Regions from separate parts of the Homo sapiens genome. Here region 1 is linked to region 2. The links come from fine-mapping of genetic effects on gene expression. Tissue or cell type: whole blood. Region 2 holds a variant in brackets; the other region holds the start of a gene. All regions are shown on one strand. Distances are from middle to middle.

Region 1 (5,260 bases), 470 kb after region 2:
TCCCCCATAAGAACAGCCCTTACCTTGTGCTTCTGTCAGTGTCTTCAGTTAGCACCTAATAGAGCCACACTAAATTCCTTAACAGTCTCTCATACACACGTGGATTTTAAATTGTGGCAAGTATAGAGTTTTAATATCAGATAAGCTTAAAATTGAGGTTATTCTATTCATTTATGGTTGTTAAGATTCATGACAATTAGAACATAATTTAAACTCACCATTGTTTTTATAAAATAAAAAATATCAGCATCTGTAATAACTAGGTATCATAGATGAAGTAATCAATTCCCAGGAAAATGCAAATAATTATTTAATGTGTCTCTTAGCTGGTTACTTTACCTTTTAATTTGATCAGTTACATCTACATGGTTAACGTTTCCCCAAAAATTGAATCTTTAGCCGTTTGATTTGACTTTCCTATCAAGATAGCTGCCGGCAGGTGCCCTGGGAAATTCTCCCGCACGCCAGAAATCTCTTCGTAACAGAAATCAGTGTACAAAACCTGAATGCCCTTTCCCGCTTCAATTTTTGGCTATGAAAATTAAGGGACTTGACATATTCAAAATAACCAAGGTATGGAAATATTTGCTATAGGAGTTTTATTTTGAATTGCTAAAGTTAAGTTTATAGCAAATGAAGTCTTTCCCCAGATTTCCTTTTTCCCCCTAAATTGAATACTTTCTAAGCTAGCATGACTGACGCTTCCTGGCAAGGCAAGTGAATTTGGAGAAAGGCAACACTTTCCTCCTGTTTATATTTATAAAATGCATTATTGCGAACTATTACTCCACATTCTTCAACTCTAAATATTTAAATAGACTAATCAAAAAATATTGGGAAATGTGAACATTTCAAGTGTAAAGATGATGCTTCCTTTTTCCTCTTTTAAAAGTCATATTCATTATTCAATCCGGTGACTTTCTCAATATCAATGCCACTTTGTGTTGGCATTATCTTTGGAGGACACTAACAGGTCTGTTTCAAAATGATAATTTCAAACAACAAAGTGAATCGCAAGCGCACACTTAGCAGCTGAGAGGTAAATGAGAACCACAACATCACCTCCCTTCTGAAACCAAAGGCTCCAAAACCTTTTGAGGAAGTTGTGGGGGCCAATCCCTCCCAGTGGTCCTGACGTTCGGTCATAATGAATGACTGTTTGCTATTGACATTTATGCCTGCTGACTGTCTGGATAATTTCTATTATTGGAAGAGGCAATAAAGGACCTGGTGACGGTTCGAGGGCACACAGGAAACGGTCTGGTAGAAACTTATCTTAGGCCAATGCAAAGATGAAAATTCTTCAGGAAAGATGGACAACCCCAAACACACCTAACGTTGCCTCCTGCTTTCAAACAACTGGCAAAGCTGATCAATTCTAGCTGTGTTTTTCCAACCGTTCTTTATACTTCTACCTCACTTAAAAAAAATCAGCACATTTCAAATCATGATTAGAACTGAACTTTCTCCTGCAGGCTCACTAGGAACTGACAATAACACAGGTTCCTCTAGGAGAGAAGGGTCGGCATGAGAAGAATCTTTTAATTCTTCCTGGCATGCACACAGGCTACGATGGCACTGGGGGCATTGCTCTCATATTGGAGCGATTGCTAATTTTGCAAAATCCCCAGTGTGAAAGCCCTCCCTTGCTGTAGCATTGACTAACTTCAGCGCGGCCCAGCCCCAGGAATATCAGTAACAAGGCACAGCTGAGTTTGTCAGTGGCCGCTGTCAGCCGGCTGCTTTTCCTGCTTTCCTGGTTTGCGGTTTTTTTCTACCACTAACAAAATATGATGCTTCTTTCTGTTTTCCTGTATTCATTTCTGCTTATTTCTCCAAGGACGAGCCCTGTGTTCTCTTTACGACCCAATGTTTACAAATCGACGGGCACCACATTGAGTAAAAACTGCCAGCCAATTTGGAGAGGCGATCGCAGGGCTTCGCCTATCCCTTCCTCCGGGACAGTTTGGATGGGAGTAGCTGGCGCGAGGGCTCGTTCCCCCGTTTTTGGGTAATTCCTTTGGCACTGGGAGACGAGATGGCCTCCGGAGGGTGGAAGGCAGTGCCAGCCCGGCCGGCCACTGGGGACTGCGGGGCCCGGAGACGCGCGGGGTCCCCGGGGAGCTCCTCGCCGCCCTCGCCCCACTTCGTCCGGGTCCCTCAAACATGTCGCAGCGTGGCTGCTCACTGTCCCCTCTGGGCAAGAGGAGGCCCCAGACATTTCCACGGGATCTGAACTCCCGAGCGCCCTGCACGGAGCAGCCATCCCGCCAGCACCCCAAAGTGAAGCTGCTCACAACGGACAAGCCCGGAGACCCCATGAGAGGCCGGGGTGGAGAAGCCGGGGGTGAAGGGGGGCAGGGGCCGGCGCGCCACGCGGTCCTTACCTTTCCGCTTGGACCTCCGCCTCCTCCTCCTCTTGGACTTGCATTTGAGTTGACTGCTCAGCCCTCCAGACCCTCTGCCGCTCCCCAGGACCGAGGCCATGGCCGAGACCCAGGCGCGGAGCCCAGAGCCGCCTCCCTCCTGCACCTGCACCTGCCTCCTTCCCGGCAGCCGCCGCCGCCGCTGCTGCGAAGCTTGAGGTTGCAAACCCGGGAGCGGCTCACTTTTCAGGACTGAGCAGGAAAGCGCGCTCCGTCTCTCTGTCTCTCGAATTGTTCTCTATGACTTGCTCCCACTGGGCTGGGGGCCTCGGCTGGGCGCCTGGAGCGAGCTGCTCCCTGGTCAGGGAGGGCGGGGAAGGGCGCGCGGCGTCCTGAGTGCTCCGAGCTTCCCGCGGGCTCTGCCTCCTGCTCTGGGCTCCCAGCGCAGGGAGGCTACTTTTGCGCCTCTGCTAGTTGTTTGGCACCAGCCACTTTGAAGCCAATCACGCAGGGAGCTTGTCTATTTGCTGCAGCAGCGTCTAATTAGATCCAATCACAACTGCTTTCTGGCTCTGACATCAGCAGCAGCACCAGCCGCACCGCCGCCTGGCCGCTTGCAAACTCAGCTCCCGTTTGGACGGTGAAGCTCCCAGGACCGGCGGCTGGAGGGAGGCTGCTCCCGGGGAACAAGGACGCGGCGCGGGTGCGTCTGGGAGAGACCGGGGGAGCCTCCAGGAGGGACCCTGCCCGGGAGGACGAGGCCTCCTGCCGCAGCCTCGCGGACAGCTCAGCTCGCCCTGCTCAGAAAGACACAGGGACGGGTTTTTCCAACCAACAGTTTTTAACTAGTCAATTCATTACCATGCTCCTTGTGTCAAGGGGGGGAAATACCTCTTTCAGAAATGCAGAGACCGCACTTCCTCAGAAACGGACTGAGGTTTGCAATTCCCCAGGAGACAGCGTCCTGAGGGGCATTTATTCCTCAGAGCCTGCATGCTTGTCTGTTTGCCTCTTCTTTCCCCTCTTCATATTCCTTGGCCGTTTCCAATGCAAAAGATAAATCTTGCATAAAGACAGAGGTTTTGGGATCTGAGTCTGATTTTTGCCGTCAGGAATTTCATGTGTTGCTTTATTTAGGGAACAATGACACAAAAGGAAGAGAAAGCTCTCAGCGGAGAGTTTTGTTGCCAAATGTAATATTTGGATGGAAGAAAGTAACATTTACAAAGAGGTGGATTGCACACTGAAATAGTTTTAAGCAATTTTTTTTTCCAGGAATGTCCTATGTTTCAAGATTATACTTATGGAACCCTGGAAGTCTTATGTAAAATATAAAGAGGAATAGAATCTGGTAATCATCATTGCATCTTGTATTTAAATCACATAAGCTTTTAATTACAATAGTCATGTTTTTAAAAAAATCCACTCTAAAATTCATTAGCACACATTAACATGTTGATATAAAAATGGCACACAAATATTTCTGCTATTCATTGCCTCACATGCAACCTTTTCAGCTGCTTATGTGCCTAGAAATTTCCAGATAATTTTTATCATAAGAAAAAAGAATCACTCTGGGGGACATTGGAAATAATTAGGATGATCCTGTGTTGTTATGTGCTGAGCTGATAGATCGTAGCTCAGTTTTCATTGATGAGAGAGAGTAAGACATTTGATTTCAAATCTTAACTCTACTGCTATGACCTCGGGTAAGTTAAACCGTGCCTCAGTTTCCTCATCTGTAAACTGGGGATAACAACGTCACCCACCTCATAAGTTCATTCATACTCGTTGAATCAGTATCAACCAGTATAGACAGGAACTGGAACATGTTAATTACTCTATGATTATTTATTAAATTTTTTCCAGCAAATAATTTGGAAGGAATGAGCGTATGTTGCAGACAAGCCTCAGAAAGACAGGGCTTCTGCGTTTTCCTTTTAGAATGTTGAACCTTCTAGTCCAACTCAGACTGAGGACCACAATCAAACCAACATCCCTCTTCAGGGCTGGCTTCAACAACCCTGTTCCCATGACAGCACAGCTCAGCTCTGCTGATAATTCCCAGCGAGGGTTGAGAAGGCACATAGCTCTCTCACTTCCTCTCTGCAATACCCGAGATATTTGAGTGCTTAAACTATATCGAGAAACACAGCTCTAGGACTCTGCCTGTGAAACTTCTGAGCTTCACACAATGTGCTGCACTAATCCAGAGTTGCCCTATTTCTGTATCTGCAGAAAACCCATCAGGGGGTGGAGTCACCGAAGGAAGGTGCTTCAGAAGAGCTTCACACACACACACAGCCCCCACAAGGTGGTCAGCATTTATTAATGGCCCCAATAGCTCCATCATCACACGGAGCAACCGTGCTGTCTGGGAGACTCGTATACATGAACCCTTGTTTCACTCCAAGGGCAGGTATGGTGGCCGGAAAGTAACGTGTCTGTTAAATGTTCTTCTGATGTTGGTGGAGTGGGGAAACAAAACTGAAAACTGTCTTTGAACACTTCATTTAGACCCTAATTTGAAAGTTACGATCGAAATTTTGGCAAACCTTTTTCTTGAAGTTCCTCCAATTGGTTCTTTTTTGTATAATTTATGAAAATGCTGTTTTCACAGATACTTGCTGTTTTCTGTATTTTATTTATTTTGCATAAGACGATGCATAATAGATGATGCTAGGGCGACGGCTAGGCGAGAAAGCCTTTGTTTCTCATCACAGAGGGGCTTTAAAGAAGAGGCTCGCAGCGACAAGTGCGTTAACTCCAGCGTGGTTTCCAGCACGTCTCACTCTGCTGTTGCAAGCAGGGCTGCGAGTGAGCAGTGCTGGTAAGCTGCCATTCCCCGATGAGCCTCCTCACCTCCTGCCTGTTTCCCACAGTGCCTCAGCGCA
Region 2 (5,260 bases):
CCACCATGATCAAGTGGGCTTCATCCCTGGGATGCAAGGCTGGTTCAACATACGAAAATCAATAAATGTAATCCAGCATATAAACAGAACCAAAGGCAAAAACCACATGATTATCTCAATAGATGCAGAAAAGGCCTTTGACAAAATTAAACAACCCTTCATGCTAAAAAAACCTCAATAAATTAGTTATTGATGGGACGTATCTGAAAATAATAAGAGCTATCTATGACAAACCCACAGCCAATATCATACTGAATGGACAAAAACTGGAAGCATTCCCTTTGAAAACTGGCACAAGACAGGGATGCCCTCTCTCACCACTCCTATTCAACATAGTGTTGGAAGTTTTGGCCAGGGCAATCAGGCAGGAGAAGGAAATAAAGGGCATTCAGTTAGGAAAAGAGGAAGTCAAATTGTCCCTGTTTGCAGACGACATGATTGTATATCTAGAAAACCCCATTGTCTCAGCCCAAAATCTCCTTAAGCTGATAAGCAACTTCAGCAAAGTCTCAGGATATAAAATCAATGTACAAAAATCACAAGCATTCTTATACACCAATAACAGACGAACAGAGAGCCAAATCATGAGTGAACTCCCATTCACAATTGCTTCAAAGACAATAAAATACCTAGGAATCCAACTTATAAGGGATGTGAAGGACCTCTTCAAGGAGAAATACAAACCACTGATCAAGGAAATAAAAGAGGATACAAACAAATGGAAGAACATTCCATGCTCATGGGTAGGAAGAATCAATATTGTGAAAATGGCCATACTGCCCAAGGTAATTTACAGATTCAATGCCATCCCCATCAAGCTACCAATGACTTTCTTCACAGAATTGGAAAAAACTACTTTAAAGTTCATATGGAACCAAAAAAGAGCCCGCATCACCAAGTCAATCCTAAGCCAAAAGAACAAAGCTGGAGGCATCACACTACCTGACTTCAAACTATATTACAAGGCTACAGTAACCAAAACAGCATGGTACTGGTACCAAAACAGAGATATAGATCAATGGAACAGAACAGAGCCCTCAGAAATAACGCCGCATATCTACAACTATCTGATCTTTGACAAACCTGAGAAAAACAAGCAATGGGGAAAGGATTCCCTATTTAATAAATGGTGCTGGGAAAACTGGCTAGCCATATGTAGAAAGCTGAAACTGGATCCCTTCCTTACACCTTATACAAAAATCAATTCAAGATGGATTAAAGACTTAAACGTTAGACCTAAAACCATAAAAACCCTAGAAGAAAACCTGGGCATCACCATTCAGGACATAGGCATGGGCAAGGACTTCATGTCCAAAACACCAACAGCAATGGCAACAAAAGACAAAATTGACAAATGGGATCTAATTAAACTAAAGAGCTTCTGCACAGCAAAAGAAACTACCATCAGAGTGAACAGGCAACCTACAAAATGGGAGAAAATTTTCGCAACCTACTCATCTGACAAAGGGCTAATACCCAGAATCTACAATGAACTCAAACAAATTTACAAGAAAAAAACAACCCCATAAAAAAGTGGGCAAAGGACATGAACAGACACTTCTCAAAAGAAGACATTTATGCAGCCAAAAGACACATGAAAAAATGCTCATTATCACTGGCCATCAGAGAAATGCAAATCAAAACCACAATGAGATACCATCTCACACCAGGCAATCATTAAAAAGTCAGGAAACAACAGGTGCTGGAGAGGATGTGGAGAAATAGGAACACTTTTACACTGTTGGTGGGACTGTCAACTAGTTCAACCATTGTGGAAGTCAGTGTGGCGATTCCTCAGGGATCTAGAACTAGAAATACCATTTGACCCAGCCATTCCATTACTGGGTATATACCCAAAGGACTATAAATCTTGCTGCTATAAAGACACATGCACACGTATGTTTATTGTGGCATTATTCACAATAGCAAAGACTTGGAACCAAGCCAAATGTCCAACAATGATAGACTGGATTAAGAAAATGTGGCACATATACACCATGGAATACTATGCAGCCATAAAAAATGATGAGTTCATGTCCTTTGTAGGGACATGGATGAAATTGGAAATCATCATTCTCAGTAAACTATCGCAAGAACAAACAACCAAACACCGCATATTCTCACTCATAGGTGGGAATTGAACAATGAGATCCCATGGACACAGGAAGGGGAATATCACACTCTGGGGACTGTGGTGGGGTGGGGGGAGGGGGGAGGGATAGCATTGGGAGATATACCTAATGCTAGATGACGAGTTAGTGGGTGCAGTACACCAGCATGGCACATGTATGCATATGTAACTAACCTGCACAATGTGCACATGTACCCTAAAACTTAAAGTATAATAATAATAATAATAATAATAATAATAATAAAAGAAACCACCATCAGAGTGAACAGGCAGCCTACAGAATGGGAGAAAATTTTTGCAACCCACT[C/T]ATGTGACAAAGGGCTAATATCCAGAATCTACAATGAACTCAAACAAATTTACAAGAAAAATCAAACAACCCCATGAAAAAGTGGGCGAAGGTATGAACAGACACTTCTCAAAAGAAGACATTTATGCAGCCAAAAAACACACAAAAAAATGCTCATCATCACTGGCTATCAGAGAAATACAAATCAAAACCACAGATACCATCTCACACCAGTTAGAATGGTGATCATTAAAAAGTCAGGAAACAACAGGTGCTGGAGAGGATGTGGAGAAATAGGAACACTTTTACCCTGTTGGTGGGACTGTAAACTAGTTCAACCATTGTGGAAGTCAGTGTGGCGATTCCTCAGGGATCTAGAACTAGAAATACCATTTGACCCAGTCATCCCATTACTGGGTATATACCCAAAGGATTATAAATCATGCTGCTGTAAAGACATATGCACACATATGTTTATTTTGGCACTATTCACAATAGCAAAGACTTGGAACCAAGCCATATGTCCAACAATGATAGACTGGTTTAAGAAAATGTGGCACATGTACACCATGGAATACTATGCAGCCATAAAAAATGATAAGTCTATGTCCTTTGTAGGGACATGGATGAAACTGGAAACCATCATTCTCAGCAAACTATCACAAGGACAAAAAACCAAACACTGCATGTTCTCACTCATAGGTGGGAATTGAACAATGAGATCACATGGACACAGGAAGGGGAACATCACACACCGGGGCCTGTTGTGGGGTGGGGGGAGGGGGGAGGGATAGCATTAGGAGATATACCTAATGCTAAATGATGAGTTACTGGGTGCAGCACACCAACATGGCACATGTATACATATGTAACAAACCTGCACGTTGTGCACATGTACCCTAAAACTTAAAGTATAATAATAGTAATAATAAAGAATATTTTAGCTTGTTGAATAATAGGAGAATGTGGCTTTACACACCCCAAACATTGCCTGGCATGCAGGTAAACACTGGATGCTAGTGTCCTTTATTTTTTCACCAACAAAGTTAGTGTTATGCTTCCAGTAAAAAAAGACTCATAGTCAAAGAGACCAGAATAAAATGAGTTTAGTTGTGTTGCTTTGAGATATAATATGGCGTTGGATTTTCTTTTCCTGGTGAAGCCTTTTGGACAATTAGATTGAAGATAGAATTGAATGCTCAGTTATGAGTTAATAATCAGAAAAGTGAAGAAGTGTTTGAACAGCTTTGATTGGAGTACTAGACCTTGAGAGTGTAGCAAAAATATTTATTTTCTCCTCCATTTCTCATGTATTTCCATCTACCCATTTCCTTACTTGGGATAAATGAAGGCATTTGGTGAGGATTTAACTCACGGCCAGGGCTGCCAGTCCTCTCCTTAGTTAATTCAGCCTTGAGGGTTTTCATCCGCACCCTGTGAATTATTCCAGGCTAAACTATTTAAATGAGCCAGGCTAAACTATTTAAATGTTCGGGTGGAACAAATGTCCAGTCATTGATTTTCTTTTCCTCTCCATTTTGAGGAGGGATGTTTAGTAGAAATGTGTCAGCATTCACACTACGCAAGGGTCAGCACCGGTTTAGTGAAATCTGTCCTGCATTTTATAGTTTAAACCTAACAGTTTAAACCAAAGATTTAAAATCAATTGCCCATCAGCGCTCCTTATTGTACTCAGCCGTCGGCCTCCGTGAATCTTAATGTGCCTGAACAGACCCACAGAGACACAGCATCAGCTTCACATTTCTCGGTATCCACTTAGTAATCATTAAGATCAATTCCTTGAAATACAGATGATAATTCACCATCTTTCATCGCAGCATGAGGTTTCTGTTTAGGGATTTTTGTCCAGTTCATTTGTTTCAGCTTATCTTCCTCATGCCCGACTGGATGCAAATAAAAAGACCTTGCTTTTAATTTTAAGATCAAAGTGACTGCCAGTCATTCAGGGGAGACAACGGAAGGAAAGGTTTTGAAAAATTGGGGGAATAAACTCCTTATACTCCGCTTCTCTTAGGTCCTTGTGAAGATGAACTTACACAGATGCTCTTTGTATGATGGAAAGAGAAGTTTTAACTGTATTTAAACTGTCATGGTTTCTAAAGTGCAAATGGGAAAATCATGTTTGATAACCAGCTTTATCTGGTACAACACAATAACACAATTCTTTATTCAAGCCGAAAGCGTGGCACAGACAGTACGGACACATTTCTTTACCTTATGTGCTCATTTTAGGTTCAAAGCCAAGCATATGCAGCAAAACATAGTCTACATTTCAAAACTTGGAAAACTTATGCTCCATCGTGGAATTAATTGGCACTTTTGTATTTTTCCTAATAAGAGAGGCCGGACCACTTCCCTCAGAAGGGTTTCCTAGTTGTCCTGGGCTGTTTTTACAAAGTTGAACTCTACCAGGCTGTTTTCAAGAAATGTGCATTTTTCCAGGGCAGTTGTAAGTCAGTCCAAGAAAATTGTGGAGCGATAAAGCTGGACCTTAGTTTAAATGGGAAAGAATATTTATAAAAGCCATATTTTCAGAATATGTTTTGTAGGCTAGACTAGCAAAAATTTAAACATGACCCCCTAATGTACTCTAGAAAACTCCTTTTTTCTAGTTATTAATAAACTCGAAAAATAATTTCCCATAAAGAGGTAATGCATGGTCACCACCGGGCCTTGATGCCTGCTTCCAAAAGGAACCTGGAACTGGGAAGGATAAAGGACCATCAGCTCTACATTTCAGCTCTGCCCCGCCCTCAGGGCATCAGGAAAGCCACTTGGCCTCTTCATCTTCGTGTCTGCATTTCCTGAAGTGTTAATAAGAA

The links. PIP is the estimated chance that this variant, and not a neighbour inherited with it, causes the effect.
Region 1: it holds the start of ADARB2, and the variant in region 2 is fine-mapped to the expression of ADARB2 in whole blood (TOPMed, PIP above 0.99). The same link has a PIP of 0.9 or more in spleen.

Annotation. Positions count from the first base shown.
Region 1 is chr10:1,734,664-1,739,923 of GRCh38, forward strand. ADARB2 (adenosine deaminase RNA specific B2 (inactive)) reads right to left here and starts at 2,862. Exons shown (of 10, transcript NM_018702.4): 1 at 2,388-2,862. The coding sequence starts at 2,487. RefSeq lists an enhancer at 2,194-2,790 and a silencer at 2,752-2,811.
Region 2 is chr10:1,259,947-1,265,206 of GRCh38, forward strand. The region is part of intron 4 of ADARB2 (adenosine deaminase RNA specific B2 (inactive)); the gene reads right to left. Among named protein-coding and RNA genes, the nearest start is that of LINC00200, 100 kb to the left of the region's middle. The variant C/T (reference allele first, on the strand shown) is at 2,439.